Linked DNA regions of Homo sapiens. The gene in region 2 interacts genetically with the main gene of each other region. Each region holds a gene or a part of one and is shown on either strand. Other genes may lie near its edges.

What was found.
Region 1: changes in BOD1L1 (region 2) and CIT together harm fitness less than expected from each alone (positive genetic interaction), as found in Homo sapiens cells (one large-scale study listed by BioGRID).

The regions. Positions count from the first base shown.
Region 1 is NC_000012.12:119,713,321-119,716,820, forward strand, and holds part of CIT (citron Rho-interacting kinase), read right to left. Parts: intron 1,015-3,500; coding exon 877-1,014; intron 405-876; exon of another isoform or gene 329-404; coding exon 148-328; intron 1-147. UniProt on the Homo sapiens protein: Plays a role in cytokinesis. Required for KIF14 localization to the central spindle and midbody. Putative RHO/RAC effector that binds to the GTP-bound forms of RHO and RAC1. It probably binds p21 with a tighter specificity in vivo.
Region 2 is NC_000004.12:13,568,726-13,572,225, forward strand, and holds the end of BOD1L1 (biorientation of chromosomes in cell division protein 1-like 1), read right to left. Parts: intron 1,715-3,500; coding exon of another isoform or gene 1,711-1,714; exon of another isoform or gene 1,410-1,710; intron 1,404-1,409; coding exon 1,286-1,403; 3' UTR 13-1,285; downstream 1-12. UniProt on the Homo sapiens protein: Component of the fork protection machinery required to protect stalled/damaged replication forks from uncontrolled DNA2-dependent resection.

The DNA of each region.
Region 1 (3,500 bases), on a different chromosome or scaffold from region 2:
AATGTCTGAACTCAGAAGAAACATCCGGCTGGAGGATAGGATGAGGGGGTGGCAGAGTTCCTAGAAAAGACACTTCCCTAGAAAACATCAGGGACAGAGTGGCTTGTGCCAGCACCTGCTCCAGCCCAAGCCACCCTGACATGGTACCTGGGCACCTTCATCCACCCTTCCAGGTGCAAGCTGCTGCTGGGCTCCTTGGTCTGGAGACCTGGGGAGTTCATTTTGTCACGGCAGAAGGCCTCGGTGAAGTGTGTGGCATATTCAGCAGGCAAGCCGCAGGTGGCTGGCAAGCACGTGGAGCACTTGGGGTGACACATCACCTGACATTCTAGGGAAGAACAGTGAGCAACCTGAGGGCATGCTCAGCTGACCCTGGACCCTTCCCTTCCTCTGCCAGCCAACGCCTGGGCTTCTCTACCCCAGCCGGGCCCAGAGAGTCTGGCCCTGGCTTGCAGGTAGTCTCCTGAGCTTCCCCTGGTGCCAGGCCCCTGCAGAAAGGGAAAACAAAAGTGCCAAGTGCTCTTGACCCAGTTTTCCAGGCTTCAATCCAGACCGCCCACAAACAGGTGTGTAAAGAACACGTTTGCATGTTTCAGTTGGAGTCAGCGGAAAGGTAGGGAGAGACCAGCCTGACAAAAAGGGGCTGGAAATTAGCAAAGCCTAAGGCACTCTGAGCAGCAGGCTGGAGTCATGAGCTGCAGACATATATAAACTCACAGCTTCAACAGGGGAAAAATAGCATCCTCCTACTGAAGTAAGAAGCTCGAAAATGAATGCACTATATGATGAGTTAGAAAAAAATCACCTCCACCTGATAGACTTTTTAAGCTGGAGATGCACAGGTGCCCAGCACAGATGCACAACTACTGATCTTACCGAGACATTTGGATGCCTGGCGTCCAAAGTGCACGGTATCCAGACACACAGCACACTTTGTGGCTCGCATGTTCAGTCCTACGTTGAATCGGTGAGGAATATTGTGGTGCATGCGTTCCTTAAGACGCCGACTAAATTCTGGAGGAAAATGTTTTAAAAAATCATTAGAGTACTGCAAATGATCCCATCAGGAAAGTGAAAAGACAACCCACAGAAAGGGAAAAAATACTTGCAAATCAAATCTCTGATAAGGGACTCATATCTAGAATACATAAAGAACTCTTACAACTCAATAATAAAAGGACAACCCAATTTTAAAATGGGCCAAGAATTTAAATAGACACCTCCCCGAAGAGGATAAATGGCCAACGAGCAAATGAAAAGATGCTCAACATTATCAGTCGTTAGAGAGATGTGAATCAAAACCCCAAGCAGACACCACTTCACAACCACTAGGATGTCTACAGTCTAAAAAAAGGAAGATAAGTGTTGATGAGGATGTGGAGAAACTGGAACCCTCACACATTCCTGGTGAGAATGTAAAAATGGTGCAGCCACTTTGGAACTCAGTCTGGTAGTTCTGTAAAAGGTTAAACATAGTTACCCCAGAACCCAGCAATTCCGCTCCTGGCTATATATCCAAGGGGACTGAAAACATATGTACCCACAAAAATCTGTACATAAATGTTCACAGCAGCATAATTTATGACAACTACAAAGTGAAAACAACACAAATGTCCACCAATGGTGATATGGTTTGGCTGTGTCCCCACCCAAATCTCATCTTGAATTGCAGCTGCCATAATTCCCATGTGTTGGGAGGGACTTGGTGGGAGATAACTGAATCATGCGGGTGGTTTCCCCCATACTGTTCTTGTGGTAGTGAATAAGATCTGATAGTTTTATAAGGGGAAACCCCTCTCGCTTGGTTCTTATTCTCTTTTGTCACCGCCACATGAGACATGCCTTTTGCCTTCCACCATGATTGTGAGGCCTCCCCAGCCACATGGAACTGTGAGTCTATTACACCTCTTTTTCTTTATAAATTACCCAGTCTTGGGCATGTCTTTATCAGCAGTGTGAAAATGGACTAATGAAAATGGATTAATGGATAATCAGATGTGCCATCTACACAATGGAGTATTATTCAGCCATGAAAGGAATGAAGTTCTGATACATGCTACAACATGGGTGAACCTTGAAAACATTACATTCCATGAAAGAAGCCAGACACAAAGGCCGCATGCAGTATGATTCATCTTTATGAAATGTCTAAGAGAGCAGATCGACAGAGACAGAAAGTAGATTGGTGGTTGCTAAGAAGAACATTAGTGGAAGGAGAATGGCGGGGGACTGATAATGTGTATGGAGTATTTTTTGGGTGGGGGGGTGTCAAAATTGTTCAAAAATTAGAATGTGATGAGGGTTACACAACCCTGTAAACTTACTGAAAAAGACTGAATTGTACATTTTTAATGAGCGAACTGTACGGTATGCAAATTACATCTGAATGAAACTGTTAAAACCATTAGAACAGGTTAGTTACAGATTTTGAAAGTATTAACACTAACAGATGCATCTAGATTTATAAGACTCAACTTAAAATCTCCATTATCCAGTGATTAGGAATCAGGCTTTAAGAACATGTTACTGGTAGGAGATTGACTGACTATACGGTAGGCTCTCCTTACAACATCACCCCCCTTCCTTTCTTGGAAAGGTGCAAGGAATAAATAACAGGAATGCACTTTGAAACTGTGTGGTGCAGTATACACAAAGGAGCAATATACTGTAGTACTATCACTATTCAGGGACATTTCAGTGGACACCACAGCCAGAAGCAATGCTTTCCTCTATCTTGTCATCACCATTTTAATGAGTTTAAAAGTAAAGCTCTTGGGCTGGGCACAGTGGCTCAAACCTGTAATGCCAGCACTCTGGGAGGCCAAGGCAAGTGGATCGCTTGAGGTCAGGAGTTCAAGACCAGCCTGGCCAACATGGTGAAACCCTATCTCTACTAAAAATAAAAATATTAGCCAGGCATGGTGGCGCATGCCTATAATCCCAGCTACTCAGGAAGCTGAGGCATGAGAATCGCTTGAGCCTGGGAGGCAGAGGTTGCAGTGAGCCAAGATCACACCACTGCTCTCCAAGCCTGGGCGACAGAGCGAGACTCTGTCTCAAAAAAAAAAAAAAAAAAAAAAAAAAAAAAAAAAAAGTAAAGCTCTTTGATTCAAGGAGTTATATAAACACAGGAGGAAGAAAATGACTTCAGGCTAAAGAAAAACAACAGCAACAAGAAAACACCATCTGGTTTACAACCAAAACAGGTTTGATTGCAATGCCATGATTGCTAAACCACAGCTCTACCCTAGTGTTCCTAAGACATTCCAAACAGCTTCCTTGGCCTTTTCTTAAGTCCTTTTAATCTCTAGGTAAATGGAGTACATTTGAGACCAGCAAGAAAACTCCTCACACTGTTGGTAGAAATAAACATTGGCACAAACTACCAGCACTCAAAATGTACATGACCTTTAACCCAGTGATTCATTTCCCAGGAATTTCTCCAGGCACAACACCCACAGAGGCACAGGATGTCCTCTGCAAGGTGTTTACAGTAACAG
Region 2 (3,500 bases):
TTACCACTCAAATTTTGGTAAACATTTTATAATTTATATATAAAATCTCAGTAAGAAACCATGTAAAATGACAGAAATATCCACCTTACATTAAGAGTCAAAATAAAAAAAAAAACCCATACACACTGAATGTAAATTTTAATTATAAAACAAGAATATGAACAAAACATTTTAAAATAATCTCAATTATTTGGCAACTCATCACATCATTGCAAGAGACAAATTTGATCGTAAGAAGTTTAATCTTATGAAAAACTGAAGTTGGACAGTTTGCTCATATGAGAGTTAAAACATGTTTAAAAAAACACTTGGCAATAAAGCCAGTTTCTATACTGAAATAACTGTGTATAAAACAACATAAAATCCTGAAACTGGATAGACAGGAGGGACCTAATCTTGAATGCATTTCTCTTCACTGAAAAAGACAATATGGAAAGAGTATTGGTAGAAGCTTCAGAACAGCACAGAAGAGGAATGAACACAGAGAAGAGGAATGAAGAGGGATTTCTGCTGCAGGTGACTGACGCAACTTTACCTGAACCAGAACCTGTTTTGTGTCAACGTGGCTGGTAGTAAAGTCACAGATGCAAGTATAATCTAAAAACAAGTTACATTCTTAAAAAACAGAGCCACAACTGTGAACAGAAAAGCAATGAAGAACCTTTCTTTAGCTAAACTACTTTACTTGGATACATGCGAGTTTCTGCCAGATCATATTAAGATAGTTACAGAGCAGGCAGAGTCCTAAAAAATTTTCTACTAATGACTGCATAGCATTTAAAACCCTTTTTATTTAAAAAAAAAATAAAGTAAAATAAACAGATATATAGTAAAGTTCACAGATAAGTTTTCTCTGTAAAATAAATAAAGTGTTCATTGATTAGCATCATACATAGAGTAAAATACAACCTATTTTTACATGTTTATATACTATACACAGATTACCAGTAGGCAGCCTGGCGTCTGATGGGCTGGAGGGGTTTGCATTCATGATGTGTCACATTGGGAAATCCCAATTTTGAATGTTAAAATATACAACTACTTTGTTTTGAGTTCAGATACAAAGTAAACTTATTGTCCTTTATCTGAAATAAATGTACATAATATCTTCTATGAACAATAGTTTATAAAGCTGTTTAAAACATAACAAGAAAAAGCTTGCACCTAGGGACTTACAGCACATGCATATCTTTTTCCTGGTTAAAGAGAAGCCTATGGCCACCAAGGCATGTCTCTTTCCTCTCCACCGTGTTCCTCCATAAGCCTAGGGCAGCAGTGGTCAGGATTATCGCTTCGCTTTTTTCACAGGGGCTTCCTCCACCCTTTGCTGGCCTCTTGTTCGGGCCCCAGGAGGGCTGACTTCTCTCTTGCGCTTGATAGAAGGGGAGAGCTGTGTCTTTGATCTGCATTAAGCAAAGTCAAGGCAATGGTGAGGTTTAAAAGCAGCTGCTTCAAATAACTTGGGAGTTCCTTAAAAAACAGAAGAGTTTTGAACTTGACAGCTAAGAAGAGAAAAACCCAGTAACATTTATACATGAAAAGGAGCTACCTCGCGAAGAGCTTGAACTAACTGGTTATTTGCTGTCAACCTCACACACAAACACAGGACACTGGAAGAGAAGTTTGAAGCCTGTGCTCTGGTTCCAGCTCTACCACACTCTAGGTGCTGATGGTGCTCAAATCCACTTCCTTCTCTGGGCCCTAGTTCTTTCATCTAGAAAACAAAGACATCAACAGCGGGTCCCACCAATATACAGACTGTCCCAAGTTCAAACAACTAGCAAGAACACAGCAGGACTGCAATCTAGGTTGGACCAAGTGCAAAATCATGTTTCGTAGCACAGTATTACAGAAAATACCTGTGTTAGAAAAGGCACGGGAATTTCAGAAGAACATTCTAACCAATCTCCCTATCACCAGCATACCCTGTTGATATAGTCTGTGATTAAAATTATTTGTTGGAAACTCCAATTAATCATGTTACTGTCCTAGAGATGTATGAAGTTCCTCTTGGGTCTCTGATGCTTTCAGGAGAAAATCATCCAGAGCCTTTTATAGTTCTGCCTTCTACTTGTGCACCATCTGGGCCTGTAGTCCTGCACCTTCCACATCACAAAGCAAGATGCCCCATCTTTGGAATCCCCCACAGAGAAATGTGACTTTATTGATATGAAGACTTTAGGTCTTTACCACAGCATTTACCATTGTGATTCATCTGCTGTGTTTTTTCAAACTGCAAGTTACAATCAATATTTTAAAACAACATGTTAATAGGACACAACAGAAAATACCACTCATATCACATCTATTAAATTTGACTCATGAAATTTTGTTTCAGTTACAGCAGCAGGAATGTGAGCACCAGCTGTATTGCAAAATATTCTTATAGTGGGTTGTTGCCAAAAAAGTTTGAAAGTCTTATACACATATATCTCCCCCATTAGACACGATGATTCTCTAGGGCAGCTGCTGAGATTTATTCATTTTTCTAACTCCAGTGCCTAGTGCAATGCCCAACACATGGCAAGCGGGCAGTAAATGTCCTGTCAATGAATCAAAGAGTTGGAAAACCAAAATTGCAGGAGATGGAGAAATGGGACTCTTAGTGATATGAAGACACGTCTTCCGTTTCTTGTTTGACAGCAAAAGTAAATAAACTGAGTCAAAAATTGTTGCAGATGATGTGGTTTTGACATGTGTTGACAATGACTGAAAATGTGTTTGTTGATAATCCATTTCAAACTGTTTCCATGGAAAGCCACCAGCCACTCAATGAACACCTCTTCAGTAAAGGTGCCGTGCGCAGTATTGTGCTGGGGGCCAAGTGGCAGCCAACAGAAGCTCTGAGTCAGGCTGCTTCTCCCCAGCCATGTGAGCTTCGTAGTTTATCCAGGCCCTTCTAGTCCACCCAGAATGTGGTCTGTGAGGAGGGGCATTGGTCACTGAGGAGCTTGTTGGAAATGCCAACTCTCAGGCCCCAGCCTAGACTTACAGACCCAGGATCTGCATTTTACCAACAGCCTCAAGTGATTTGACTGCATGTTCAATTTTGAGTAGTATGCATGGAAACCTTCCTGAGATTCTTTCCCTCACATATAAAATAAGAGTAACTATTACAATTCACTCACTGAGGGTTAAATGAGAGCATGTATGTGAAACTGCCTGGCACTATAGTTTGCTTTCGTTTCTAGAATGTGCGGAAAACAGCACATACATACAAGTATGCTGTGAAGATGAAAATGTGGTAAGAGGTCAAAACAGTTTTTGTGTACAGTGAAGAGTCTTTTATTTTTGAATATGATAATGTATAGAAAGTATGACAAATTCCTATCTCAAGAAAGAAACCTAGAGCTCAGAGGGGTAAATAAAAGGAATATACCAAACCAATGCTATGTGGCATCTCAAGTGCCCAGTACTGACCAGAAGTGCAGCAAGAAGAGATGAAAATGGGCTGAAGCGGGACGGAAAGGATCTGACTTACTAGGGGTGCTGGTGGTGAG